Linked DNA regions of Homo sapiens. The gene in region 3 interacts genetically with the main gene of each other region. Each region holds a gene or a part of one and is shown on either strand. Other genes may lie near its edges.

Evidence for each region.
Region 1: changes in LEO1 (region 3) and DCTN4 together harm fitness more than expected from each alone (negative genetic interaction), as found in Homo sapiens cells (one large-scale study listed by BioGRID).
Region 2: changes in LEO1 (region 3) and PPWD1 together harm fitness more than expected from each alone (negative genetic interaction), as found in Homo sapiens cells (one large-scale study listed by BioGRID).
Region 4: changes in LEO1 (region 3) and OPA1 together harm fitness less than expected from each alone (positive genetic interaction), as found in Homo sapiens cells (one large-scale study listed by BioGRID).
Region 5: changes in LEO1 (region 3) and MRPL22 together harm fitness less than expected from each alone (positive genetic interaction), as found in Homo sapiens cells (one large-scale study listed by BioGRID).
Region 6: changes in LEO1 (region 3) and CCNK together harm fitness more than expected from each alone (negative genetic interaction), as found in Homo sapiens cells (one large-scale study listed by BioGRID).
Region 7: changes in LEO1 (region 3) and RPA3 together harm fitness more than expected from each alone (negative genetic interaction), as found in Homo sapiens cells (one large-scale study listed by BioGRID).

The regions. Positions count from the first base shown.
Region 1 is NC_000005.10:150,731,073-150,735,550, reverse strand, and holds part of DCTN4 (dynactin subunit 4), read left to right. Parts: intron 1-2,075; coding exon 2,076-2,183; intron 2,184-3,644; coding exon of another isoform or gene 3,645-3,665; intron 3,666-4,061; coding exon 4,062-4,135; intron 4,136-4,394; coding exon 4,395-4,478. UniProt on the Homo sapiens protein: Part of the dynactin complex that activates the molecular motor dynein for ultra-processive transport along microtubules.
Region 2 is NC_000005.10:65,569,162-65,573,639, reverse strand, and holds part of PPWD1 (peptidylprolyl isomerase domain and WD repeat-containing protein 1), read right to left. Parts: intron 4,009-4,478; coding exon 3,908-4,008; intron 3,763-3,907; coding exon 3,642-3,762; intron 1,802-3,641; coding exon 1,354-1,801; intron 1-1,353. UniProt on the Homo sapiens protein: PPIase that catalyzes the cis-trans isomerization of proline imidic peptide bonds in oligopeptides and may therefore assist protein folding. May be involved in pre-mRNA splicing.
Region 3 is NC_000015.10:51,937,066-51,941,297, reverse strand, and holds the end of LEO1 (RNA polymerase-associated protein LEO1), read left to right. Parts: intron 1-3,012; coding exon of another isoform or gene 3,013-3,037; coding exon 3,038-3,142; 3' UTR 3,143-3,273; downstream 3,274-4,232. UniProt on the Homo sapiens protein: Component of the PAF1 complex (PAF1C) which has multiple functions during transcription by RNA polymerase II and is implicated in regulation of development and maintenance of embryonic stem cell pluripotency.
Region 4 is NC_000003.12:193,612,730-193,617,207, reverse strand, and holds part of OPA1 (dynamin-like GTPase OPA1, mitochondrial), read right to left. Parts: intron 2,486-4,478; coding exon 2,167-2,485; intron 1,535-2,166; coding exon 1,438-1,534; intron 31-1,437; coding exon 1-30. UniProt on the Homo sapiens protein: Dynamin-related GTPase that is essential for normal mitochondrial morphology by mediating fusion of the mitochondrial inner membranes, regulating cristae morphology and maintaining respiratory chain function.
Region 5 is NC_000005.10:154,967,492-154,970,889, forward strand, and holds the end of MRPL22 (large ribosomal subunit protein uL22m), read left to right. Parts: 3' UTR 1-1,920; downstream 1,921-3,398.
Region 6 is NC_000014.9:99,494,375-99,498,852, forward strand, and holds part of CCNK (cyclin-K), read left to right. Parts: intron 1-1,123; coding exon 1,124-1,255; intron 1,256-4,478. UniProt on the Homo sapiens protein: Regulatory subunit of cyclin-dependent kinases that mediates activation of target kinases.
Region 7 is NC_000007.14:7,635,553-7,639,120, reverse strand, and holds the end of RPA3 (replication protein A 14 kDa subunit), read left to right. Parts: coding exon 1-51; intron 52-1,148; coding exon 1,149-1,257; intron 1,258-2,038; coding exon 2,039-2,121; 3' UTR 2,122-2,603; downstream 2,604-3,568. UniProt on the Homo sapiens protein: As part of the heterotrimeric replication protein A complex (RPA/RP-A), binds and stabilizes single-stranded DNA intermediates that form during DNA replication or upon DNA stress.

The DNA.
Region 1 (4,478 bases), on a different chromosome or scaffold from region 3:
GCCACCCGGCCAGAGCTATCAGTCTCCGAGCTGGTACTGGGGAGTGTCTGCAAAGAGTCCAGTGATGCAGTCCGTCTTCAGGTCTCTCAGTTGTGGATACCAGCACCTGCTCTGGTGGAGATAGCAGGAGAGTGAAGTGGACTCTGTGAGGGTCCTTGGTTGTAGTTTGGTTTCGTATGCTAGTTTTCTTTAATGCTGGTTGTGCTAGCAGTGAATTGTCACGTGGACAGACTCAGGACCTCTGGTTAGCCAGGATGTCACAGGTGGTGGAATTAGCTGTTGTTTTCTCCTTTTGAGGGCAGGGTTGTTCTTTTATGAGTTGCTATAATGAGTTGGTTGGCCTCCAGCCAGGAGGTGGCGCTTTCAAGAAAGCATCAGCTGCAGTAGTGTGGTGGGGATACAAGCTTGCCCTAAGGTTGCCTGGATAAGTATTTGGGTTTCCCAGGTGATCAGTGGGGCCATAAAGCTCCCAAGAGTTTACAGTCTTTTGTCTTGGGCTACCAGGGCAGGTAGAGAAAGACCATCAGGTGGGGGCATATCTGAGCTCAGAATCTCCTTGGGCAGGGTTTGCTGCAGCTGCTGTGAAGGACAGTTGTGTGGTTCTCAGGCCAATGGAGTTATGTTCCCAGGGGGATTATGGCTGCCTCTGCTGTGTCATACTGGTGGCCAGGGAAGTAGGGGAAAGCCAGCAGTGACAGGCTTCACCCAGCTCCCATGCAGCCAGCAAGGCCAGTCTCACTCCCACCATGCCCCACCAACAGCATGGGGTTTGCAGGGCCAAGATTTTGGCCCAGGCTACAAGCCTACTTGCTGAAAAAGCAAGCTAGCCTTTTGGACTCCGCCCCTTCCCGACTGCTGTGGCTTATGTGCTCATATCTGTACTTCCCCTTTACGCCTTCCCCATCTTGATTGTGCCCAGGAAAATTTGCTCTCCGTCAAAGTTATTACAAAGTTCACCTGGAAGTTTCTGTCTCCAAGTGGTCCTTCCTCAGTTCCACTGGCAGCACTCCCCAAGGACCCCTGTGAGATTAAAGTCAGAAATGACTTCCCTGGGCTTCACTGGGAACCGGGAGTGCCTACAGGGCTCTTCCCGCTGTTGCTTCTTCTATTTTTATATTTCACTCGGCTCTCTAAATTTTGTTTCAGCACTAGGTAAGGTTAAATTTTTCTCCCATGATCTGGATTTTTAGGTTCTCCAGTGAGGATGTGTGTTTGAAGGTGGATTTTCCCCCTCTTACACATGGGCACTCACAGATTTTCTGCTGTCTCATGGATTTTGCAGCAGCAAGCCACTTCTTTTAAAGGGTCTGTGAATTCTTTCAGTTTTCCTAGTATGTTCCTGCAGTAGTTCTTGGAATAAAAATTCACAGTGTGAGTCTCCACATGTTGTTCTGTCTGTCTGAGGGGAAGCTGCAAGTTAGTCCTGCCTCCTATCTGCCATTTTTTTTTTGCCACCTCATCCTCTTGAGTAGCTGGGACTATAGGCATACACCACCATGCCCAGCTAATTTTTGCATTTTTTTATAGAGACAAGGTCTCACTCTGTTGTCCAGGCTGGTTTTGAACTCCTGGCCCCAAGTGATCTACCCACTTCAGCCTCCCAAAGTGCTGGAATTGTAGGCGTGAGCCACTGTGCCCATCCTGGTTTGAACTTTTTATGATTAATATGTATTGCTTTTATAATTAAAATGTATTTTAAAAATTAAAAAGTGTGATGGAGTTGGGGAATAAAATACAGTATAAAATGCTATGTTCTTAGAAATAAGTGGTCCTGTGGCCATGCAGAAAAAAAATAAGAGCAGTTGTGAGGGGAAATAAGTAATGAAGTTAGAGAGCAAAAAATTTCCAAGCCTCTTCATTGCCCATTTCTTCCCATCCTTGAACTTCAGTTTTCCATTTCACTTCGGAAAACAGATCACATAACGAAGAAAAATTATCTTAGAAGAAAAAGGGCAAACTTGCCCATCTTAATAATTTGTCTTCTCTATTCATTATGTGTCTAGTCAGTGTAGTTGATTAATTTGATATGTTTTCTGTTAGCTTTTTTGTGTACTGAGTCTGTGATTTTCTTACAGATGAACAAATTGATTGAATATTACCAGCAGCTTGCTCAGAAAGAGAAGGTTGAGCGAGATCGCAAGAAACTGGCACGACGTAGAAACTATATGCCTCTGGCTTTTTCGGTGAGAATTTGGTACTAAAATGATTTGCAAGACCTCTAAGGCCTAAGAACAGTGATCATTTCAGAAAATGGCCATTGTCCTAGATTCCTGAATGGTGGATATCAGAGAGAGGGATTCTTCAAATTATAGACGTTTAAGTCCAATAGTTAGGCTTTTGCTATATCATTAGTTCTGTTTGAGTTATTTGTGTTTTGAGGACATTTGTGTTTCTTTCTCCATCACTCCCCTTTATCTTCTGATTATTTCCCCAGAAAGGCTGTTAATTTTGTAGGCACTGCAGAGTTCCACGTACAGCTTTTGTGTATTACAGAAAGTCTGAGAAGAAGGAGGTGGGCAAATGGTAGATTTCAGTCATATTACCCCTGTAGCCCACCTTTGACATCCTGGCAGTAGTGGTTTCTCAGCTTTAGTTATAATTTTTTTAACATCCTCCCCTGTTTCTCCAAGATGAAAAACACTGACTTTTTACATAGTGCACTTGTGTGGTTAAATAGTAATATATGCAAGTAGAATTTTTGATAAGAATTATTTATGAGAGTCATTCTCTACCAGTTTACGTACTGCTAGTAAGAAGAAAGAAATTAGGATTTGGAATTTTTGTTATTTTACCCCGAGTTTTATTTGCTCTCATAGTACAGTTTGTTTTCTGTGTGCTTGCTTGGGGCCCAGCAAATTGACATTCAATAAATAACATTTATTGAATGGCAATGATGTGTCAAGCTCTGTGCTAAATAAACACTTTACATGTATTACTTTACTTAATCCTCACAAAAATCCTGTGGAGTATCATATCCCCATTTTACGCTTGAGGAAATGGGACCTAGTTAAGCAACTTGTCATACTGCATCCACATGAAAATTAGTTAAGTCATTGAAACCCTAAGGGTTGGTAAAGTCCATATAAAAATACCTAGATTAAGCTGGGTGCAGTGGCTCACGCCTGTAATCCCAGCACTTTGGGAGGCTGAGGCGGGGGGATCACTTGAGGTCAGGATTTCAAGACCAGTCTGGCCAACATGGCGAAACCCTGTCTCTACTAAAAATACAAAAAATTAGCTGGGCATGGTGGCGCACGCCTATAATCTCAGCTACTTGGGAGGCTGAGGCATGAGAATCGCTTGAACCCAGGAGGCGGAGGTTGCAGTGAGCCAAGATAGCGCCACTGCACTCCAGCCTGGGTGACGGAGTGAGACTCTGTCTCAAAAAAAATCTAGATTAGAATTTAAAAACATTAACACTTGCAAAGCACCTACATTTGCAAAAAGAAGTGAATTTTTCTGAATAGTCCAGTGGTATAGTCAGCATATGCACCAATGTGTGTTATATTTAGAGGTAGAATTTGAATTAAATGAATTATTCTTCCAATTTTCCCATATAACCTGCCTGCTATATGCGTTTGCTTCTATCTTATGCTGCATTTTTTGTCTCTGTTGCAACCTGCTGCTATTTTGGGGCTCTACAGCAACATACTATTCATGTAGTGGTAAGTTCTCCTTTATGATTCTTGCTGACCCTGAAGAAGTTAGCAGATGACCACTGGTGTTCCAGGAAGACGTCTGTTGTGTATCTTAGACACTCCACATAGTTCTTGCCTGAGCCGTAGCTTAGATACTTTTAGATTACTAGCAGAAGCTCACATTTGGTTCATTTTTACTGTATTAATATAGTTTCAATCTCCATGTTTAGTGCTGTTATTATTTTAAGAATAGAATAATGATGTGGGGCTACAAATTGCTTTCTTTAAAAGAAGCCTTTAGATTAGCTTTTTTTTTGCTTATTTCCCTGAGCTTCTCATGCTATCCTACCCAAAATTCTTTCTTTTGATAAATAGGGTGTGTAAAAGTGGACTTTCTAATAGGAATTTCTGAACTTTGTTTAGGACAAATATGGTCTTGGAACCAGGCTTCAGCGACCACGAGCTGGTGCATCCATCAGTACCCTTGCCGGACTTTCGTAAGTTTAGACATGAAATGACTTTGAGGAGAACAGCAGGTATCAAAATGAATATCAAATAAATGAGATTAAAACACACACACACACACAGTTGTCAATGGAAAAGAAGATTCTCATACTTAGAAAAGACCTACGCTATACAGATATTCTATGACAGAGGAATACTTCAATTATTGATATCATAGACTGAGGATAATCAGGTGGATCCGTGAGAAATTACTCTTTTGTTTTGTTTTGTTTTGTTTTTTTAATTTTTCAGCCTTAAAGAAGGAGAGGATCAGAAAGAGATAAAGATTGAGCCAGCTCAGGCTGTGGATGAAGTGGAACCTCTACCTGAAGACTA
Region 2 (4,478 bases), on a different chromosome or scaffold from region 3:
CACTTTGGGACGCCAAGGCAGGCAGATCACTTGAGGCCAGGAGTTCAAGACCAGCCTGGCTAACACGGTGAAACCCGTCTGTACTTAAAAAAAAAAAAAAAAAAAAAAAAAAAAAAAAAAAAACCATCTGTACTAAAAAAAACCCATCTCTAATAAAAAAAAAATATATATATATATATATTAGCTAAGTGTGGTGGCACACGCCTATAGTCCCAGCTACTTGGGAAGCTGAGACAGGAGAATCGCTTGAACCCAGGGGGCGGAGGTTGCAGTGAGCTGGATCATGCCACTGCACTCAAGTGCAACTCTGTCTCAGAAAATAAATTAATTAAATAAATAAATAATAAAAAATAAAAAAACTGTGCAAGACAGGATGACTAGTGAAAGCCTTCCAGGGGAAGTGACTCTTCATTTGAAATTTGAAGTACCAGTTCAATAGGTAATGGAGGAATATGAGGAGGGAGGGCCTCACTCCAGGTGGAGGAAACAACTTATAAAAAGGTCCTGTGGTGGGAGGCAGGTTCAAGAAATAAAAAGAAGACCCAAATGGCAGAATAAAAGGCAGGGAGAAAGGTGACTTATGGTATCACAACATGGTAAGCCATGACTCTGGTCTTGATCCCAAGAACAGAAGGAATTAACTGAAAAGTTCTAGGCAAAGGAATGACATGACCAGATATATGCTTGTAAAAGATGGCCCTGGGTGCAGAGTGGATATTAGGAAGAAGCCAGAATAAATACAGGTAGTAGGCCATGTAATAGGTCAGGCAAAAGAGCATGAACTATGGTTAGTGACAGCTGTGCTGAAAAGAAATTGGTGAATTTAAAGTATATTTGGAAAGCAAAATTGGCAGGACTCCAGTGAATTACACAGAAGGGTAAAAGAGTTAAGGATAACTCTTAGATTTCTGGTTTGAGCAACTAGATGGATACTGGCACCATTTATGAAGACAGGACAAGAGATAGCACCAGGTTTGCTTGTAATAGAAGGTTAGAGAAGTAAATTTAGAAGTAGTCATAGGGACAGGAGTGAATAAAGAGTGAGAAGATAAGGGGTCCTAGAATGAGTTTTGAGGATCTTAACAGCTTGCAAACAAAACAAAATTGTAAAAAACAAAATAACCACAAAAATAAGACAATAATTGACTTGAAAAACGCACATCATAAACCCCTAGAGAAGAGACTTTCAAAGAGCAACACTACAAGACAGAAACAGTTGAATATCTCTAATGTGCTAAGAAAAAAATAAGTCTATCTAAATGTCTATCTGTAGAAAAAAGATCTTTCAAGAAAAGGCATAAAATAAAGCATTTTTAGAAAAGTAAAGTACGGTTAAATTTAAATTACACTTACGCTTAGTGATTCATCAAAGACTCTCATGAGTTTTCCAGTTACAAATCTGAAAATTCTAACTTTTCTATCAGAACCAATAGTAGCTATTTTCTTCCCATCTGGTGAAAAACATACGCTGGTTGGATAAGCCTTACACTTGGCAAATTCATATAAATCAGTGTCAGTTTTATATTCCCAGTTCACATTTTTGGGGAATTTATATTCATGAGGAGGCCCAGTCCAGTATTCAATCATCCCAGATTTGTCAGAAGACACTACTGCTTTGTAAACTGGGTTTAGCCGTATCTGAGTAAGAGGTGATGTATGGAGTTTGTCAAAAATATGAAGTGGCTGGTTATCTCCTCGGCCATCATAAATGAAAATTTTTCCTGTACTCTTTTCGGAAGCAGCAACTGAAGAAATTGCATCCCCTGGGCAATAGATCCACTCACACTGTCCAGGAAAATAGCTAAAATCGTAAAGAATTGAGAGGGAAAAAAAAAGGTCAGCACAACAAGCAAGCATCCCTCCCTATCCCACTACCAAAAATGTCTTGGCTGGTGATTTAGACAGTTTTGGATTCCTTGCTCAAAAGTAGCAGAGACACAGAATGGGGAGGAACAGCTAAGAATAGTTACTTATTTTTTCTCTTTCTGACCTCATCAGTATAATGATAGTTCTAAGGATCTGTCAAAACATAAGAAAAGAACTGCATATAGCAGCACACTTATTTCTCTTGGGCAGATAAGGAAACCTAATCAGATCTGGACCTTAAGATCTTCTGGGACATTGCTTTTTGGATCTCTGTACAACAGTCTATGTATAACTTACTTTAAAATAGATTAGCATGTAATAGTGTATTTTATAAATCCTTTCTTGAAATATTTAAATCAAATATTTTATTATGACAATACGTCAAAGAAAAACACTGTCCTAAAACACTCTCATTACTAACTAAATCTTGATATTAAAACTCAAAGCTTTAAACATTCTACCTGATGAACAAGGCATAACAGAATTCAGACTGATCTAATCAATTGTACTAAAACACTCAAAAATGAATGTTGTTTCCTTCAAAGTAGAGATTCGGAGAAGTGACACTATTATTCTAACCACGGTGCTGATGTTCAAAACCTTCCAGACCTCTTCTTCAAGAATTTCTATCAAAGTCTGAAATATACTCTTCCAAGTATTCTCAAAGGGCAAACATTCAATATCTGTGAATGGAAAGCTTTGAGGAAACAAACCTGGGGAGTAGGACAGGTGATCAAGACAGGTATGTTTGTGCCATTCTAACCATAAATAATGAGATTTATTTCCTTTAGTGGCTCATAAAGTCATAAACTGATTTTGAAGGAAATTCTAAGATGTGAAATTATTTGAATTGTGGGCATAATTCAGCCCACAGTTGGAATTCCATCAGTTGGAATTTCTAGAGACATGGTCTTCAGGAGGTAATTAAGGTTAATGAGCTCATAAGAGTCAGGGTGGGGTCCTAATCTGATGGGCTTGTAGCCTTATAAGAAGAAAAAAAGATCTCCCTTTCCTTCTTCCCTCTCCCTTCCTTCTTCCTCCAACCATGGGAGAACATAGGGAGAAGTAAGAAAGACAGCCCTCATCAGAAATCAAACCCTGATGGAACCTTGATCTTGGACTTTCCAGCCTCCAGAACTGTGAGAAAATAGATTTCTGTATTTAAGTCACCTAGTCTATGGTTTTTTTGTTATGGCATCCAAGCAGACTAAGGCGAGTCCCAAAACTTTCTGACACTGTTATGACTTTCAAGCTGACATTCATTTAGATGTGTATAAATTCTATGTTATCTTAAAAAAGACATGCTTAAAACAAAGTATCAGTCTTAATACTGTACAATCTAACCATAGTTTTAGTATCAATATATTCCAAAGTTTAAAGTCACCAATAAATAGCTTTAATTCCAAAAATGTGAATAAATCTTATAGGAACTCAATTCTATATTACTGAAATAAGTAAAGCAAGGAAGTTAACTGTAACTACCAGTAATTAGATATGACAGAGCTCCAGTAATATTACTAAGTAATGTCAATTTGGATATAAGGAATCCTTGTTATGATGCTGTTTAGAAATTTCTGTGATTGATAACAAATCATAGCAGATGCTTCCAAACATTATAAGGCTTCACTGTATCTAATTTTCCAAGCAAAACCCAACAGCACATTTTATTTAAAGATATGGTAATATACTATTTAGAAATAACCTATTAAATGGTAAAGTCTGATTTACAAATTACTTCAATAAGTTAAAATATATATACTTTTAAAAAGACTCACCCAAGTTTCAGCATGTTGATCATGTCAAAGTTCACTACATCAAACACCTTCATTGCTTTATCATCACCCACAGAACAGAACAATGCTCCCTCAGAGCTAACTGCAATACTCTCAATAACTCCTATTTCAATAAATGAAATTAAAACATTCTAGTAAATAACAGTAAAATAAGTGTGCATGATTCAAAGAAAAAAAATTTAAAAAATTTAAACTTTAATTAGTATAGTTTAGGAAAGAGCTACAAGAAAATGAGGTGCAATTCTTACCCAGGTGACTACGAAAATGTTTAACAAATTCAATTCCCTCTTCTATTTTTTTCCAGAACTTGACATGTCCATCATGACTGGCAGTAATAATAAAATCTGTTCTGCATATATGAAATGTTAAAAGTTAATTTCTAAGACAGATCTATGAATCACTTAGTATTCCCAAAGCAATCATTCACTAAGAATCTGACTTGTGCATAATAGGTTTTTTTTTAAAAAAAACCCTTCTTTAAGCAGACCACTATATTACAGAACACTGCAAATTTTGAAACTCCTTTCTGGATGTCAAAACAGTTACAGCTGTACTAATTTTAACCTCAAGAGCTAGGATCAGAATTGAACTAGAATTTGACATTAAAATAAAAATCTCACTAGGAATCACTACACTTTGGATTCCTTATTGCTAAAATTACCCTACAGACAGTCTTTTCACAAGAAAATAAACTATTTGTCAGTAGCTGATAAGTAAATCTAAACATACTACTTTCATACGCAACAAAATTCAACAAAAGTTTTTTTTATATCCTATACAAGGTATTTTGGTTACTTAAGTATCAAAAAGATTTTGTAC
Region 3 (4,232 bases):
TATTTTTGTCATTTACTGCATTTATATATGACACTGGGATCTGTTGCAGTTATGTTCAGTAAGGCAGCATCCCACATGTGTAATTTCACAAAAATGAAGTCATCCTGAAGGATTCTCTCACCTTTCTAAGTCCTGGGAGTCTGAGGAACTATATACCTTTGCTCTGTGTGATGGCTGGCTGGCTGGCTTGCTTATTTATTTATTTATTTGTTTGTTTGTTTGTTTGAGATGGAGTCTTGCTCTGTTGCCCAGACTGGAGTGCAGCGCCGCGATCTCAGCTCACTGCAAACTCTGCCTCCTGGGTTCAAGTGATTCTCCTGCCTCAGCCTCCAAATCCATGCCTGGCTAATTTTTGTATTTTTAGTAGAGACAGGGTTTCACCATGTTGGCCAGGCAGGTCTCTAACTCCTGACCTCAAGTGATCTGCCCGCCTCAGCCTCCCAAAGTGCTAGGATTATAGGCACGAGCCACCACATACGGCCTTATTATTTATTTTATTAAAAATTTTTTTTTGTAGCAATTATAATTTTTTTTTTTGGTAAAGACAAAATGTCTTACCATGTTGCCCAGGTTGGTCTCACTCAAACTCCTGGCCTCAAGTGATCCTCCCACTTTGGCCTCCCAAAGCCCTGCGTTTACAGGTATGAGCCACTGCACCCATTCCCTTTGCTGTGTTTTTCTGTGCTTATGTGTAGCTGCCAGAGAAGTCAGTCCTTGGCAGGCCTTTTTTTTTTTTTGAGACGGAGTCTCGCTCTGTCGCCCAGGCTGGAGTGTGGTGGTGTGGTCTCAGCTCACTGCAACCTCCATCTCCCGGGTTTAAGCAATTCCCTTGCCTCAGCCTCCCAAGTAGCTGGGATTACAGGTGCCCGCCATCACGCCTGGCTAATTTTTTTGTAGTTTTAGTAGAGATGGGGTTTCACCATGTTGGCTGGGCTGGTCTTGAACTCCTGACCTCGTGATCTGCCCACCTCGGCCTCCCAAAGTGCTGGGATTACAGGCGTGAGCCACCACGCCCAACCTTTTTTTTTTTTTTTTTTTTTTTTGATACGGAGTCTCCCTCTGTCGCCCAGGCTGGAGAGCAGTGGTGTGATTTCTGCCCACTGCAACCTCCACCTCCTGGGTTCAAGTGATTCTCCTGCCTCAGCCTCCTGAGTAGCTGGGATTACAGGCATGCGCCACCACGCCTGGCTAATTTTTTGTATTTTTAGTAGAGACGGGGTTTCACTGTCTTGGTCAGGCTGGTTTCAAACTCCTGACCTCGTGATCTGCCCGCCTTGGCCTCCCAAAGTGCTGGGATTACAGGCGTGAGCCATCGCGCCCGGCCGGTCCTTGGCAGGCTTTCTAAAGCAGAATTTCACAGCTTCTTACTCCAGAGGATGGATTAGGACTGGTGCCAGTGAGACTTCTTTGGGAGAGCCCTGGCCATCTCCTGGCTGCTGCTGTCCAGGGGCCTTTAGGACAGGCTGTACCATCTTTTAGAATTACCATGCTAGTTCTTTTAGTGATTCAAATTTCATCTCATTAAAGGATTTTAGAGCTGAAAAGACAAACACACCAAGGCTCACTTTTGGAAGGTTACCAAAAAATAGTGATTGCATGTAAAACGTTTTAAGATTTTTCCTTTGGAAATTAAAAGACAAGTAGTGTGATTGAATGTGCTCTTTGCCTGTGGCGCTGGGAGTATTTGGGTTTGCTCTAGCCTGCAGAATAGAAAGGAGGGGCTCTTGTCCCTTCTTGGGGGCAGGGTCCATCTTTCAATATTGCTGTTTAGGTATTTCACTGCTGTCAGCTGGGAAGTAAATGGAGGAGGAGGACTTCTCTAAATACCTTACTGTGGATTCATAACTTCCCCCCTTTGAATTCTATGGCCTTTCAGGTCTGTGGGAATGTATTTGGGATAATAAGGCAGGAAACAAGTGTGAGATGCTATCTTGTCTGTCAGAGGGCCAGCCATGAGAACCATCAGAAAAAAGTGGGCATACCAGGTTGCATTCTCCATCTAGCAGCCTGTGGTCACAGCAGCAAGATGTCTGGCTTTCCCTAACTTCAACCTTCAAACCATTTGTTCATCCCATTTAATTTTTAATTTTTATTTATTTATTTATTTTTGAGACGGAGTCTTGCTTGCTCTGTTGCCCAGGCCGGAGTATAGTGGTGCGATCTCAGCTTACTGCAACCTTCGCCTCCTGGGTTCAAGTGATTCTCCTGCCTCAGTCTCTCGAGTAGCTGGGATTACAGGCGTGCGCCACCACACCTGGCTAATTTTTGTATTTTTAGTAGAGATGGAGTTTTGCCATGTTGGCCAGTCTGGTCTCAAACTCCTGACCTCAGGTGATCCACCCCCTTTGGCCTCCCAAAGTGCTGGGATTACAGGCATGAGCCATCATGCCCGGCCCATCCCATTTAGTGTCAGTTTGTTTTAATCAGTATTTGATATTTAGATACTGACATGTTCAAATTCTATCTATCTGTAAAAAATGTTTTTTAGGTAACTTCCTAAATTATTTGTTTCTGTTAGAACGTTTGTACAGAATGATTTTAAACAGAGGAAACTTGTTTATAGATGCCCTTTAATGTCATCAAATATTTTCTTAAAAACCTTTATGATGTTTTTAATGCATTGAAACAAATTGTTCCAAAAAAACCAAATCAACAGTCTTTAAAATACTGAATTTTAGATAATGAAAAGAAGTGAAATGCTGAGGAGGCAGAGAAAAAAAATTTGAGAAATTACCTGATCATGGTAAAAATATCCTGACAGGACCAGTGGTTAGACAGGCAGAACTTCCTCGGGAGAGCCCCGCCCCTTCTGTGGCAAATCCTGTCTCCAGTTTCCTGCACATCCTACTCTGTGTTCAAAGGTTTCCCTGTGAGAGATTAGTTCACAGTTGCTGACACCTCACAATCTCCCTCACAACCTGCAGGAACCGTTACTTTGAGTTGTCAGAGGGTCATTCAGCTCATAGCTACTTTTCATAAACCATCCTAAAAATGTTCTTTATTGACTTGTAGATTTGTAAAAATTGTATCTGTTTAGGAAGGTGAACCTTCCGGAAAGAGAAAAGCAGAAGATGATGATAAAGCAAATAAAAAGCATAAGAAGTATGTGATCAGCGATGAAGAGGAAGAAGATGATGATTGAAGTATGAAATATGAAAACATTTTATATATTTTATTGTACAGTTATAAATATGTAAACATGAGTTATTTTGATTGAAATGAATCGATTTGCTTTTGTGTAATTTTAATTGTAATAAAACAATTTAAAAGCAAGTCTCTATGTTTAAGAAATCTACTTTTCCGGCCAGGCGCGGTGGCTCATGCCTGTAATCCCAGCACTTCGGGAGGCCGAGGCAGGTGGATCACAAGGTCGTGGTGGCGGGTGCCTGTAGTCGCAGCTACTCGGGAGGCTGAGGCGGGGGAATTGGTTGAACCCAGGAGGCAGAGGTTGCAGTTAGCCGAGATCGCGCCACTGCACTCCAGCCTGGCGACAGAGCAAGACTCTGTCTCAAAAAAAAAAAAAAATCTACTTTTCCCAAAGCGAACTGATTTTGTTAATGCTTTAAACAAACAAAGTCTTAGGTCTCAGTGAATTCCTGCTGCTCTCTCAACCCCCTTCCTCTCATTCCCCACAAAGAAGCCTTCTGGGCCAGGCTGAGATTCTCTCACAATTCTGGAGACTTGGAGTCCAAAATCAAGGTGTGGGACGGCCATGCTGCCTCTGAAGATTCTTGACAGGGATCCTTCCTTGCCTCTCAGTTTCTGGTAGTTCCTGGTGATCTGTGGCTTTTGACAGTATGACTTCAGTCTCTGCCTCTGTCTTCACATGACCTTCCTTGTGTCTCTGTTCCGGGTCTCAGTATCTCCAGATCTCCCTCTGTTTGTAAGGACACTATTCATTGGATTTAACTCTAATCTGGTGTGATATCATTTTAACTAATTACATGTGCAAAATTCTCTGTTTCCATATAAGGTCACATACTGAAGTTGTGGGTAGACATGGATTCGGCGGGGGGTGGGGGGGTAGGTCACTATTTGATCCACAATGATAACGATGATATTGTTGTAATATAATTGTTAAAATATTGTATTCAAAATTAATGTCAAAAAATCCATAATGAACAAAATGTCAAAATTTTAAATAAAGATGGGATCTGGGCCGGGCGCAGCGGCTCATGCCTGTAATCCTAGCACTTTGGGATGCCAAGGTGGACATCACCTGAGGTCAGGAG
Region 4 (4,478 bases), on a different chromosome or scaffold from region 3:
CTGAACTAGGAAGGGCTTTTCTAATTTTCTCTGGAAAAGATCAAAACATATAGAGTATGAAACTAAGAAAATATGTCAGATACTATTCTTATAAAGGGCTAAAGTATTAACTTGTTTAATCCTCATGACAACCCTACAAAACAGCTACTATTATCAACACCATTTACAGATGAGAAACTAAGGTACACAGCAAGGAAGTGGAGGAGCCCGGGTTCCAGCCCAGGCAGTCCAGCTCCAGAATACAGGCTCTCAGCCACTACGCTGTGGTACTGGCAAATACATCAATTTGAAAGCTCTCCTCATTAATATTAGAAGAACAATTTGAAAGTGTGCTTTTTTTGCAAATGGATTCGTCAACATAGAACAGTTTTATCTTTATAAATTCTGTGAATAAGTGCAAGTATAGATTAATTCCACCTCCACATACACCTAAACTAAGAAATCTGACAAAGGTTTTAAAAAAATTTGATGAAAATATATTTCTTAAAGATCACCATGAATTACTGGCAATCATAGCGATCCAATATACTTTTTTCTCATCCACCTATTGAAAAAGGGAGGGCAGTGGCCAACTAAGAAAAGAAATTACCCTGGATACTAACAGACTTTTAAAGAACTTGGCTACAAAAGGTAGAGATAACCAAGGTATCCAATCAAAAGGAGCTAGCTAGGTGGGTCACAATAAATATGCTCTGGGCAACATTACATAATGCAGAAAATGATATTATTAATAGAAAGGCTACTTGGCAGCATGGAAATGCTGACAAAATATGTTAGGTAGCAAAAGACAAAATACCAAAGTGAATATTCACCATGATTACATAATTTTTAAAAAGGGAACTAAAATACTATTCTGTGGTAGTATTCATGAAAAGAAAAAAATTAAAAGAAAAAAACTCAAGCCAGGCATAGTGGCTCACACTTGTAATCTCAGTGCTTTGAGAGGCTGAGGTGAGAGGTTTGAGCTAAGGAATTTGAGACTAGCCTGGGCAACATAGTGAGACTTCATCTCTACAAGAAATTAAAAAATCAGTCGGGCATGGTGGCACACACATGTAGTCCCGGCTACTTGGGAGGCAGAGTCGGAAGGACTACTTTAGCCAGTTCAGGGCTGCAGTGAGTTATGATTCCAAGACCGCACTTCAGCCTGAGTGACAGAGCAAGATCCTGTCTCAATCGATAAGTTAAAAAGATACTAACCACATATAGTAAGTATAATTAAAAGAAAATGCTCCAAACAGTTAGTGGCAGCTGTGGTAAAATTATGGGCTACTGGGTATTTCTTTTATACAGATTTTTTCATTGATATTCTATTACTTATATCATTAAAATAAAACCGTGATATATTAGGTTCATAAGTTAAGAAACTATCTCAATAAACTATTTCTCTTTCCTCGAGATGACCAAAAAAAGTATTTTAATGTTCATGATACAAACCAAAATCGATATACTCATCAATTTCCCACACAATGTCAGGCACAATCCATTTATATTCACTAAGGTCCGGTATCATATCTTTCCACTGATCAAAAGTCTAAAAGACAAGAAAGTGTGTCAATCAGATGCTCTGCATGCCAAATAAACATGTAAAGAAAAATTATTTAATTAAAACACATTAATCTACTAAGAATAATGTATTATGTTCAAAACTTTTAAGAAACAAAATTAAGTGGTCTCAGCAAACAAGCATATAAAACAAGTTAACACTCCTCTGTTAAATATGGAAAATGTAAAAATTCAGAATATACTCCTATTTCAAACAGGTTTCATAATTTTGCCCTAAATATTACTGTGGGGTAGAAGGAAGACAGACTGGGAGACAGGACGCCTTGCCTCTGGTCCCAGACCTGCCAAGAAGTGCTTGTGTGAGAATGCCACCTGACTTTCACATCTGTGCTACTAAATGTCTAAGCTCAAAATCAAACCTAGGTGTTCCTATTCCCAGCCCTGTGCTCCTTCCACTAGGCCATTTTAATTTCCTGTAATTATAACTAAGATTCTAAAGGCATCTTCCTATTAGCATCATTAAAACAATCTAGTCCATGGTAGAGACACAAAATAAATGTTTAAACATCCAATTGTATTCCACTACACAAAAATGATTTATGCTATAGAAACTTAATCATGATATAATAATTGGAAAACCAGGAGGAATGTCAAGTTCACCTTTTTGGCTGTGTAGCCACCCCCAACAGCCGATCCTAGTATGAGATAGCGAAGTTTTAAGAGTCTCGTAGCTAATCTTGCTGGCCAAAAATTCCTGCGAGGCTGGTAGCCATATTTAATTGGAGAGAATTTCAGTTTACGTAAAGGAAGGTTTGTCAGAGAAGAGAACTGCTGAAAGGATGTCCTTAATTGGGGTCGTTGAAGCTTTAAGGTAGGATGATGTGAATGATAAATGCTTCGTGAAACCAGATGTAGTTTTTGTAGTGGTAAACTTCCTTTTATTCCAGAGCTGTGTTTCACTAAAGACTGGCAGACCTCACTGAAAGAAAAATGAATATGGAAGAAAGATCAGAGAGGGTAACAGTACAAAGGAAATGACATTAAAAGAGCAATATACTAAAGGAAACACAGCCCCATACGTGACTAACCACAATGTCACACAATAGTTCACATTTACTAACCATTGACTATGTGCCAGACATGGTTACAGTATGTGCTATCTCATTTAATCCTGCTAACAATCCCATGTAGAAAGTACTAGTATTATCCTCATTTTACAGATGAGGAAAATGTGGTGCAAAGACTTAAATAACTTGCCCAAAGTCACACTGACATAAGAAACAAAGGCATGATTCAAACCAAAGCAGTGGGACTCCACTCTAATATGTGGGCTATGATCCTGGTCTCAGGAATTGAAACCAAAGAGAGAAAAGGCAGGGACTTATTTTATTAACTACTATTCACTGTAAGTAAAAGTTGAAAACAAAAATGCATGCAAACTTTTGCTTTCAAAAACAAAATTTCTAGCAGTTTAGAACACCTTCATCTATGTCTCCCGATCCTGACAGCACAGGGGTGGAAATTAAGGAAGTTAATCAATCCCAACTCAAGCACCTGGATCCCCAGAAGAATGAAAGTAGCAAAAAAGCTCGAAAGGGAACAGAATTTAAATGTACACATTGACTGTAGAGCTCCACCCTCTTCTTCTTCCTGAAGAGAATGAAAGGTTACCAACAACCATATCTTAACATACACTCATAGTTGCATACATAGTTGCTTGCTTACTATTAGTTGCTTACTAATAATCAGGGCCAGTCTGATTCTAAGTAGTTAAAAAATATTAATTCCTTTAATTACAAGGGACTGGAAACTTCTTAAGAAGGAGGCAGGGTGTGGTGGCTCACACCTGTAATCCCAGCACTTTGGGAGGCTGAGGTGGGTGAATCACCTGAGGTCAGGAGTTCAAGACCAGCCTGGCCAACATGGTGAAACCCCATCCCTACTAAAAATACAAAAATTAGCTGAGTGTGTTGGTGTGTGCCTGTAATCCCAGCTATTCAGGAGGCTGAGGCAGGAGAATCACTTGAACCCAGGAGGCAGAGGTTGCAGTAAGCTGAGATCACACCACTGCACTCCAGCCTGGGCAACAGAGTGAGACTCCACCTCCAAAAAAAAACAAACAAACAAACAAAAAAAAAACAAAGAAGGAGGAGGAGGAATCAAGGAAGACAGGAGCAATGCTGTGAAGAATGGTATGGGGATATGGGAAAAGCGGTATCTCTTGTGTTCCTATACATACCAGACATTACGCTAGCTGTTTTCACTACAGCATAACTATATAAATGTTAACTCTCAGAAACACCGAGTAAGGTTAAGTATCCTTATTTTACAAATTTTTTTTTTAAGTATTGTTAAAGCAAACTAAATATGGCCTGAGAAGGACTCCATACTTCTATATTTGTGTTCTTGTGGACAAACCATAACCTAGCACAATAGGCAGACAAAATGGAAAACCTGAGTAGTATGCATCTGTAATAATAGCTGAGTGTTGGCCAATCCCAGTGGCCATACTTCAAGCACTAATAGACTGCTAAGTGTTCAAACTGCATTCAATTCTGGAGGCTGCCTGATTTGCAAAGTGTTTATTTTCCTTGCTTAATTAAACTCCATCAAATTTAACTTGTCTGAAGTTTTCTTTTAACAGATCTGGTGTCAGAAGTGGGATTTGAAGAAAAACTCTGGCAACCCCCTGGAACACCAGGTGACCTGGTGAGGTACCCACTGAGGCCGTTGCTCTCACTGGTCTCTTGATTGTAACTGGAGGTCATGGGTGAGTTTTCTCTCAGATTCCGAGCTCCACTAACTTGTGTTTTGAGCTCTCCGAGTTTACTCAAGCAATACTTAGCCTGGACTGGATCCAAGATCAAATTGGATTTGATAATTAACTGGATTGGATTCAGTTAGAGGCCTCAGACCTCTGATAAGTACCTTATTTAATAATGGGATCATCTCAATCCAAGGAGTCTGGGACT
Region 5 (3,398 bases), on a different chromosome or scaffold from region 3:
AAGCAAAGCCTGTTTTTATTTCTTCTTCCAACAGTGCTTTATATTGTTTGGATATCTTGTTTAGGATTGATTTATTTTTCAGGGTAAATTCAATTACTGAGAGAGGAATTGAACCAATCTCAGCATTGCATTCTAAAATGGGGCAGTAGGTGGCACTCAACCTTTTATTAGCAGAAAATTGTTAGTTTCAAATTAGAGTGTTCAACACTGCTTCCCTCTCATTCATACACGTCTTCATTAAGAAGAAGTACTCTTTGTCTACAGCCCTAGTCCAACTTTTGCATGCAAAAGAAGAATCGAGGATGCTTGCTTGTTAATGCAGACTTCTGGGCCCCACCCCAATGATTCAATTCACTAGGTCTTATGGGGGGCTGGTTTCAGAAATCTATGTTTTAAACAAACACTTCCAGGTAATTCTGTTGTAGGGGACTACGCTTTGAGAATACGGCTTTAGGAGAATGAAAAAATGTAGTTTTATTGCCATGTTTTAAGATGGCATTAATAATAGTTACTGTTTACTGGGAACTTGTTATTTGCAAGCTCTGTGCTAGTATTTTACATAATTCTTCACAACATCCTGAAAATGTAGCTTTTGTTTTACCACTTTACAAAGGAATAAACCGAAGCACACAGAATTCAAATAACTATCACAAGTCACACAGCATGTAAATATTGGGGCTATGATTGAAAGGTTTCTAAAGTAGCTGGTTCTGCATACCTTTTGAGTATACAGCTGGGTTTTTGTGTCTCTCCAGTTAACCTAATGCATGGGTAAAAAGACATCAGGGGTCAGTGGAATAAACCAAGGTGTAGGACAGATTCATTCTGGGTCCTAAGCTGTTGTAGCATGGAGTCAGGGAAATAACACTGGAATATTAAAAGGTAACCTTCATTCTAGTCTGTGCATTCTCATTAGCCAGAAAGAAGACTGGATAGGTCTCTTCCCTTGCTGGCCTCCATTTCATTCATTTATGAAACAAGAGACTCAATGTTCTCTGTAGAAAACCTTTTTTAGAATCACTTGAAGAATTTGTTTAAAAATGCAAATTCCTGGGCTCTACTCTCAGACTAAGTGAATCAGAAGCTTTGGTGTGGGAGACCATGGAACCTGCAGTTTTAATAAATGCCCCAGTGATTTGCATGTTGGAGAATTATCACACCAGGTCACTGTGCTCTCATGTGGTGGGGATGCTCCACGATTGCTCTTGGAGTTGTGACTTCCTTGGGTGTGACTAAAGCCAGGTGGTGCCATGGACATCATAAATATAAATTATGTAAGTGAAGGCACTGCTTCAGTCAGGCTGTAAAAGCTATTTTGAAAGTGGTAAGGAAAAAGTAGGATTGTAATGAAGAAAATTTCCTTCCCAGGTTAAGCCTTCATTTGGAACTGCTTCCAGTACGTTACAAAAAGTAATAATAGCTAACCTGTGTCACTGACTGTATCTGGTACTATTTTAAGCACTATATATACATTATCTCAATGAATCTTTCCCATTGTGACATCCGGCTAGTTTTCGTGGCTAAGAGTGTACTTTCTAACATCCATGAACATTGTGGTCCCCACCTGAAGTTTCACTTTGCATGTTCAGTGATATGGTTTGGCTCTGTGTTCCCACCCAATCTTATCTCAAATTGTAATCCCCATGTGTCCAGGGAGGGACCTGTAATCCCCACCTAGTGACGGAGGGAGGTGATTGATGATGGGTGTGGTGTACCCCATGCTGTTCTCGTGATAGTGAGTGGGTTCTCATGAGATCTGATGGTTTTATAAGTGTTTGAAAGTTCCCTCTTCACTCGCTGTCTTGCCTGCTGCCATGTAAAATGTGCCTACTTCACCCTCTGCCATGATTGTAAGTTTCCTGAGGCCTCCCCAGCCATGCAGAACTTTGACACAATTAAATGTCTTTTCTTTATAAATTACCCAATCTTGGGTATTCTTTATAGTGGTGTGAAAATGGACTAATACATTCAGAAGCCATTATCTGTTATTCTTTAATGGCAATCTCTGAATGCTTGTACTTTCCTTCTTTTCCAAAGAATTACTGTAGACCCAAATTTTCATCATTTGAGTGTAGCACATTCAGAAAGTACACCAATTGCAAGTATACAGCACAAATTATGATCAGCTGATGAACATGTACAAATAACCCCCATTAAGACAAGAAATAGAACATAAATAGCAACCCTGAAGCCCCTACCTGCACCCCCGGTCACTACCCCATCTCTCTTCTCAAAAAGTAATCATGATAGATTAAAAAAAAAAAAGGTCAGCTTTTGTTTTTTCAACTCTAATTTATTGGGCAACTATTATATACATGGTACTGAAGATACAGGCAGTGAACATAGTAAATATGGCCCCTGCCTGAAAGAGCTGACTGATGGGAAAGACAACTGTACATCTATCATTGAAAGTATTTATTGTGGATTCAGAGGGACAGGGGGCTCTGAAAAATAGTTACTGCTTCTTTGGGGGTTTACTTAAAGAGATACAGTCAGGAGAAAGGGTAAAAACAAATACATGGTTCAGTAAAAAGCTATGATATCAAAATGTCAACTTAAGGGATTTTATTTTATTCTTACTATTTTAGAGACAGGGTCTTGATCTGTTGCCCAGGCTGGAGTGCAGTGACACGATCATGGCTCAGTTTAGCCTCAGCCTCCCAGGCTCAGGTGATCCTCCCACCTCAGTCTCCCAAGTAGCTGGGAGAATAGGTGTGCACCACCACACATGGCTAGTTTTTGTATTTTTGTAGAGATGGGGTTTTGCCATGTTGCCCTGGCTGGTCTCAAACTCCTGGGCTCAAGTGATCCTCCCACCTCGGCCTCCCAAAGTGCCGGGATTATAGGTGTGAGCCACTGCACCAGCCTATTACAAATACTTTGAATGAAAGCAAGGAAATATTGGTAGATGAATTATACTTGTGCACTAAAATAAAATTTTTAAAAATATCCAATAGGGACTTGAATGATTATTTTCACATATGGCCCAAGGAGGCTCATACAAATTCTACTTTGGAAAGGAAGGAATGGCAATATTAATTTCAAAGTGCAATTTAAGGAAGAAGTTAAATGACCCTAAAAAGGTTGTTTACACATGCAGTCAATTTGAGAAAATGTACAAGTCTTCTGAAGAGCATTTGTAAATTGCATGTGTCCACAGTGGACCCCAATATAAGAAATACTGATTTAAATGGTTTTTCTATTTGACTGTTTATCTAAATGGTCACAGTTCTTTACTCTTTTCATATATTGATGCTCTTTGCAATGTGACTTTGTATCTCCTCTTATTAAGAGGTGGAGTCTTTGAATCTGGGCTGGCTTTGTGACTTCTTTGGCCAACAGAAAGTAGCAGAAGTGAGAGTTTTCCAGTTTTCAGTCTAGGCCTCAGAGGTCTTGTT
Region 6 (4,478 bases), on a different chromosome or scaffold from region 3:
CTTCAGTGGGTGAACAATGCAGTAATTAAAAGGTTTCGTGAAAATGACAGACTTAACATTAAAGTCATTGTGTTGATTTGTTAGCTAAGATTTTAGTTAGATTTATATACATGCCTTCCTCACTGGTTGTGAAGTTCTTGAAGAAGGAGACCATGTTGGAATCAGTTTTGTACCCCCGGCAGAGTGTCTGACATCTAGTGTGATCAGGATTATGTGAGGAGAGTGGCATGTAGGAAGGATTGGAGTGGGCAAAGAGAAGCTGAAGACAGAGCAGTTCAGACCCCAGTGATATAGGGACTGAGCTAAGGTTGAGGCAACTGGAGGGACAGTTTCTTCATCCATTCAGGCTGCTATAACAATATGCCTTAGACCCAATAATTTACACACAACAGAAACTTAACTCTTCACAGTTGTAGAGACTGGGAGGTGTAAGATCAAGGTGCTGGCAGATTCTGTGTCTGGTAAGGGTTTGTTCCTCATAAAAGGGCTCCTTGCCGCATCCTCAAATGGTGGAAGGGAGGAACAAGCCCCTTGGGCCTCTTTTATAAGGGCAGTAATCCCATTCAGAATCATTTCCCAAAGGCCTCACTTCTTCATACCGCCACCTTGGGAATTAGGTCTCAAGCTATGAATTAGGACATAAACATTCAGACCATAGCAGAAAGAAAAGGAAGCATGGGCAGTGCTGAGATGGATTCCACAGGACTGTGCTAGAAGGAAAAGGAAGCATGGGCAGTGCTGCTGAGATGGATTCCGCGGGACTGTGTTTAGTTGTGCTCTTTCTTTTTCCACGGCAAAGCTTGCTGTTTAGGGAGTTAATTTCAGATTGGAATATGAGAAGAAAATTTATTTATGTGACTCTTTTCCTTTTTGGCATTTTCTTTGTTTACATGACTTTTTTTTTAAGAAAGTTAAATTTTAAATAATTTATGAAGCTAGAGTTTGGGGGATTTATATGTATAAAATTTCCTTCAAGCTTCTAGAGTATCGGAGTATTTGTGAATGATAAAAAGAAAGGTAGGGGAATGAGGAAGACCAGTTTATTACGAAGGCCAAAATTTATTGTATCTATTTCTGTGTGACCTTTGATAACAAAAATCAAGAACTTTTGTTTCCCTTTTAGGTGACAGGAGCCTGTTGCCTCTTTCTGGCTGGGAAAGTAGAAGAAACACCAAAAAAATGTAAAGATATCATCAAAACAGCTCGTAGTTTATTAAATGATGTACAATTTGGCCAGTTTGGAGATGACCCAAAGGTAAGAATGATAATAACTTCCTGCCTTCTGGTCTTGATTCCTTATGGTAGTATTGTACAGTTCCACATGTTGACAGTGCCTGTAGCCCTTGTGTCTGCCAGTCTCTTGAGTTCCTAAGAGGGCCTTCTGTAGAAGTTACTTGATGCTTTTGTAAGAAAGGAGGGAAGATCGTGTAGCCTACACTTACTCAGTGCTTCCTTATGTGCCCAGCAGTATTCTAAGTACTTTGGGGCAGTGGCACATTTCATGGATATGAGCAAAAATCCTCTTAATTGCCATTAGGACTCTGCTTCTTAAGTGCAGTGGTGATGGCAGGGTTACAACTCCAGCTAGCTTCTGGGTCAAACAAAAGTATGTATGCTGTATGTACACATACACATGCCTACATATGCCATGTGTCTTTTGCTTCTAAAGAATGTTGGAAGGTATCAACATTTGCAGCATTTTTATGCACCCAGAGCTTGATACTGGTCACACCAGCCATCCTATCTTTTCCATACAGCTCACGCCAGTGTCAGCAAGTGGTGCTCAAATAATTGTACATATTTTGTTGTGTTTTTAAAATACCACTTTTAGGGACCCATGGCAGTGTTCCTCCACTCCCATTCGCATCAAGTTCCCCTTGTTGCAACCTCAGTAACACCTGTTAATTATCCTTCATAACATTTATCACAGTTTGCAATTAAATAGATTTTCAAAAATACTTTAGGCCAAGCCGGGCAGATTGCTTGAGCCCAGGAATTCAAGACCAGCCTAGCCAACATAGCGAAACCCCATCTCTACTATATAAGAATAAACTGGCCAGGCGTGGTGGCTCACGCCTGTAATCCCAGCACTTTGGGAGGCTGAGGCGGGCGGATCACGAGGTCAGGAGATCGAGACCATCCTGGCTAACATGGTGAAACCCCGTCTCTACTAAAAATACAAAAAATTAACCGGGCGTGGTGGTGGGTGCCTGTAGTCCCAGCTACTCGGGAGGTTGAGGCAGGAGAATGGCATGAACCCGGGAGGCGGAGCTTGCAGTGAGCCGAGATGGCACCACTACCCTCCAGCCTGGGCGACGGAGCAAAACTCCATCTCAAAAAAAAATAAATAAACTAATATTACTTTAAAAAAAAAAAACCTTTATTATTTTTTGCTGGGCATGGTGGCACGCACCTGTAGTCCCATCTACTTGGGAGGCTGAGGCAGGAGAATTGCTTAAGCCTGGGAGGCAGAGGTTGCAGTGAGCCAAGATTGCGCTACTGCACTCCAGCCAGGACGAGAAAGCAAGACTCCACCTCAAGAAAAAAAAAAAATGCTTTTTTTTTTTTTAGAGCAGTTTTATGTTCACAGCAAAAATGAGTGGAAAGTACAGAGATTTCCCATATACCCCCCACCCAACACATGCACAGCTTCCCCCATTTTCAGCATCCCCCCGACCAAAGTGGTACATTTGCTATGACTGATGAGCCTGCATTGACACATCACCCAGAGTCCAAACTTTACATTAGGGTTCATTCTCAGTGTTGTACATTCTGTGGGTTTGGACATACGTATAGTAACATGTAGCCACCATTATAGTATCATGTAGTCTATTTTCATAGCCTTAAAAATTCTCTGTGCTCCACCTGTTTGTCTCCTTCTCCCCGCTAACCTCTGGCAACCACTGATATTTTTACTGTCTCTATAGTTTCACCATTTCCAGAATGTCATCGAATTGGAATCATATAGGATGTAGCTTTTTCAGATTGGTCTCTTTCACTTAGTGGTGTGCATTTAGATAGTAGTATCCATTAGATGATTTTTATCAAATTATCACACACATAACTCCCTCCCCTTCTCAGCTGTAAGATGCATGAAAGCAAAGACTATCTGTTTTGTCTAATGCCTCATTCAGTGGCAGGACAGAGTAGGCATTCAGCAAGTACTCGTGGAATAAATGTCAAACTAATGGTCTGAGGAAATTTCTAAATCACAGTTAAAGCTAAAGCGATGAAGTTCAGCCCCATTCATGGTGTTGTTTTTCCTAACTAGCTTGTATTGTCTCACAATAGTTATCTTTTTCTCTGCCAAGCATTATGTATGTATATACAAAATGTATAGTCATTCTCCTCATTGCTTTGAGGAGTTAACAAGGGCCCAGAACACTTTTATACATATTGTGGTTGTGATTAACACTAGTATTTTCTAAGTATTGCCAATGTGGGTAACTCTTTTGAACTTAATTATAAATCCATTAATCTGTTTATAAACATTTGAACCTATTAGGAACTCATATTAACTATAACCAAAAATGCAGTTTTATAGAAATAATTTCACCATCAGATAATGTTTTCAATGTGCATGGGTATTTGATTTTTACTGAGTAGTGGGGCCCTGTGTCCTAACGTGATAAGTCTGATTGTAGGAACATGCTGTGGTTCAGTCACACCCCCGTCACAGGGGCAGGTGAACCTTGTGGCTGGCAAGCTGTGCTTAAGGATAAGGCATCACACAGATCTGGGACCACAGCAGGGCATGGACTCGTGGCAGCTGCTGGTTTGTGCCATCCCAGGGTGCCTTGGAGAAGCCCCCTTTACTTTTAGCCTTTACCCACTGTACCATGAAGTCAGGAAACCAAGCCCCAGTCCAGGAACAGTGAAAGTAGAAGTTCTGAAGCTCCTGTGCCCCAGAAAATGGGAAAAGAGGGGTCACCATACCAATTAGGTCTGAATGGGGGAGGGGGCTTTGCAACCTGCCCCCTGCCTCTCTATCTCGCGCAGTCTTCCCTGGTCGGAGTCGGGGCCAAAGGAAAACACCTGGAGCTGGGAGCAGTGAAGACATTGGGGAAGATGTTTTCCTCTGCAGACAGGAGGGCAATTCTTTAGTGGAGGCAGTATAAGTATTTAGGAAAAATAAGATCATGAGTCCCATGGAACATTTTTTGCCTTAATTAGCTTTATTTTAATTGTGTGGCTTTTCTCTGTAATATTCGTTTCAGCCTTTGTGTTGGGCACTAGACATGAGGCACGAGGCAGAACAGACATGGTCTCTGCTCTCATGGACTCTGCAGTTGAGTGGCAGGATAAATTTTAATCAAATGAGTATATAACTATTTGATGATGAGTTGTGGTGTACGCTGTAAAAGGTCATTTAAGGTGCTGTGATAGCATTCCACCCAGGGACCCAGGCAAGTCCCCCGGATAAATAGGGGCTGAGGGAAGGCGTTCCTGAGGAATGATGTTTGCTCAAAGACCTATAA
Region 7 (3,568 bases), on a different chromosome or scaffold from region 3:
ATTCTTTCAGATGGAGAAGGAAAAAATGGAACCATCGAGTTGATGGAACCCGTATGTTTAAGTGTTAATAAGTCTCTTATATATTATAGTTAATTCTTCATCTTGATTTGGTTTGTTGCCGATGTTTCTAATTTTTGCAATGGATTTAAAAAGGATGAGCTGGTAAAACGTCCCTGGCTGTAAAATTTAATTCTTGTACTATTCTCTCATTATATTTCCTTTTACATTTTTAACCAATGATTTTTTGGGCGTCATGATTTTTGAACATATCCCATAAATGTTGGATAACAATTCTCATTCCTTATGAAAGACCATAAAATCACATAAGAAAAATTTACGTTGCTTTTTTCTTCCTCAAGAGGTTTTTTGTTTCGTTTTTGTTTTTTTGTTTTGAGACAGGGTCTCACTCTGTTACCCCGGGTGGAATGCAGTGGCACCATCATGGCGCACTGCAGCCTTAGCCTCCCAAGATCAAGTTGCTCCCATGTCAGCCTCCCCAGTAGCTGGGACTACAGGCATGCTTAACCATGCCTGGCTAATTTTTGTTTTGTTTTGTTTTGTTTTGTTTTGTTTTGTTTTTTGTAAAGATGGCATCTCCCTATGTTCCTCAGGCTGGTCTTGAACTCTCGGTCTCAAGCAATCCTCCTGCCTCGACCAGCCCCTCAAGAGTTTTCGATTTTATTTTATTTTCTATTTTTGTTCATATATTTCCAGTTTTTACTTATTTATGTTTGCATTTTATGTTTAACATACTTAAAACTTTTTTTGGTATTTTGTGAAGACAAATCCATATGCTGTTTGGTTAATGTATACAGAACACATTGTGAAATACAGATTATAGAAGATTCCTCTCATAGGATATTACTGCTTATAGAAATGCTGGACGTTTTCAATAGTGATTTTGTCTTTAACTTGAATTGTAGCTTTGGACTTGAAGCTACTGCTAAAGGTAGCAGGAATTTTAACATGCTGACAGTTAAGTACTCAAACATTTGTTAACAAGTTACATTTTAACTTTTACACTGGTAATTCTTAAAATTACTTTGTTACTTGAAGTGATAGATTAGTAACCTGTATAACAGTTTTCCAAAATAATTGTCAACTGAAAATGTGATATCACCAAATCGATGTCTTGTTCTGTGTCTTAGCTTGATGAAGAAATCTCTGGAATTGTGGAAGTGGTTGGAAGAGTAACCGCCAAGGCCACCATCTTGTGTACATCTTATGTCCAGTTTAAAGAAGATAGCCATCCTTTTGGTAAATAAAGCATTCTAGTATTGACTGGTTTTATGTAATTACATAACATACAGTTTTATATAACTGTATGTAATTACATAACATACAGTTTTATATAACTGTATGTAATTACATAACATACAGTTTTATATAACTGTATGTAATTACATAACATACAGTTTTATATAACTGTATGTAATTACATAACATACAGTTTTATATAACTATGTTTTAACATACATTTTGTATTACATACAAAATTGTATGTATTACATACAATTACATAACATAAACATACAGGAAAACAGTTTTATTTTTAGTTTGATATATATTGGTCTAGAGTTTTAGTACTGCCACATTTTCAATTTCTATAGAATTTTGTGATCGTAAAGGCAAATGGGGGTACATTTTGTTTTGGCCTGCTTTTAAGTAGTGCTTATATATGTAAGAAACTCAGTAAAGATTAATTAATGTTTGTTGAAAGATAATTTTTTTAAATATAACAAAAATAGTATTAGTTTTTTTGTTGTAATATCTGAATTGAAGGAATTGAATAATGCATAACACCCAAAACACTACCAGGCAGAAACTGCCTGTATAATGAACATCAAAATGGATGGTACTCCCATGTCTTTTTTTTGGTGCCACAGTTAAATACAAGAATCCATAATCCATATCTCCATTTTTAGAAACTCACTTCCAAAAGGGTGAGAAAAAGGAAATAGGTAAAAATATCTTAGATAATAATTGATGTTACAACTTTCCATTGTAGATTAAATGTTTGCTTAAATGTTTCTTTCAGATCTTGGACTTTACAATGAAGCTGTGAAAATTATCCATGACTTCCCTCAGTTTTATCCTTTAGGGATTGTGCAACATGATTGATCTTGATGGATTTTCATACGATTGTAAATGAGCTATATTAAAGTCTATTAAAGGAAGCCCTTCTTGTTTGAGGGAGAGATTTCTGTGCTTTCTCATATTTAATTTGCTGTTTTTAAGATATTCCAACCTAGAGTTTTTGATGGAACTGATATATTGACAGTTCTCACCGAAGTCCTTTTATAAAGAATTGCTACTCCAATATATGGTCAGATTAGATGCAAGAATAAAGCAGTTGTCCGAGTCTAAGTTTCTATTTTATTAATAAAAACTAAAATGGTACGTACTATCGGTCATTTCATTTTCATTCTTTTAATCATGTATTCAAGCACAAACTTGAAATTTCATAGCCATAAGGTCAAGATTTAGACCTACCAAATAAAACCTTGGGCCAGCTGTGTTAAGGATTTGCTCACCTTTTCCCAAACTATACCTTGATAATTATTTCCTTGATACCCTACTTACAAAATGAAGTAGATGACATTAAAAAGGCAAACAGAGACTGGCCACGCTGGCTTACTCCTGTAATCCCAGCACCTTGTGAGGCCGAGGCGGGTGGATCACCTAAGGTCAGGAGTTCGAGACCAGCCTCACCAATATGATGAAACCCTGTCTCTACTAAAAATACAAAAATTAGCCGGGCGTGGTGACATGCGCCTGTAATATCAGCTACTCAGGAGGCTGAGACAGGAGAATCACTTGAACCTGGGAGGCGGAGGTTGCGGTGAGCCAAGATTGCACCATTGCACTCCAGCCTAGGCAACAAGAGTGAAGCTCTGTCTCAAAAAAAGGCAAACAGAATCTTACATCTTCTGTAATCTGTGAAGTATCTCTTTTTCTGGCTTGGTTTGGTTTTGTTTTTGTAGAGACAGGATCTCACTCTATTGCCCAGGCTGGAATACGGTTGTGCAATCATAGCTCACTGCAGCCTTGAACCTCTGGGCTCAGTCTCCCAAGTAGCTCAGACTACAGGTGGGCACTACCACGCCCAGCTAGATTTTCCTAAATTTCCGTGTAGAGATGGGGTCTCACTGTGTTTCCCAGGCTGGACTCAAACACCTAGCCTCAAGCAATCCTACCGCCTTAGCCTCCCAAAGTGTTGGGATTACAGGTGTGTAACAACCATGCCCAGCCTTCCTGGGTTTTAAAATAGCATTTACTAAATTCCAAACAAGGAATATATGATCATTGAAAGAGTTGGTGGAATCATTTGACTTTCTTTTTATTCTTTTCACCTGTCTAATCTTTAGTATGGAATCTCTCTCTAGCACCATGTTGGGGGTGAGCAGGGAAGATGTGGCAGATTTGGAATAAGGTAGTATAGAATAACCGATGACCTACGTGGCCAGTTAAGTTTTATGGCTTGACCCATTCCCTTGAATAAGGAAATAATTCTAAATCCATATAGGTTATTGTAAATTATACCAAAAATACTTAGTTTTAATTAGTG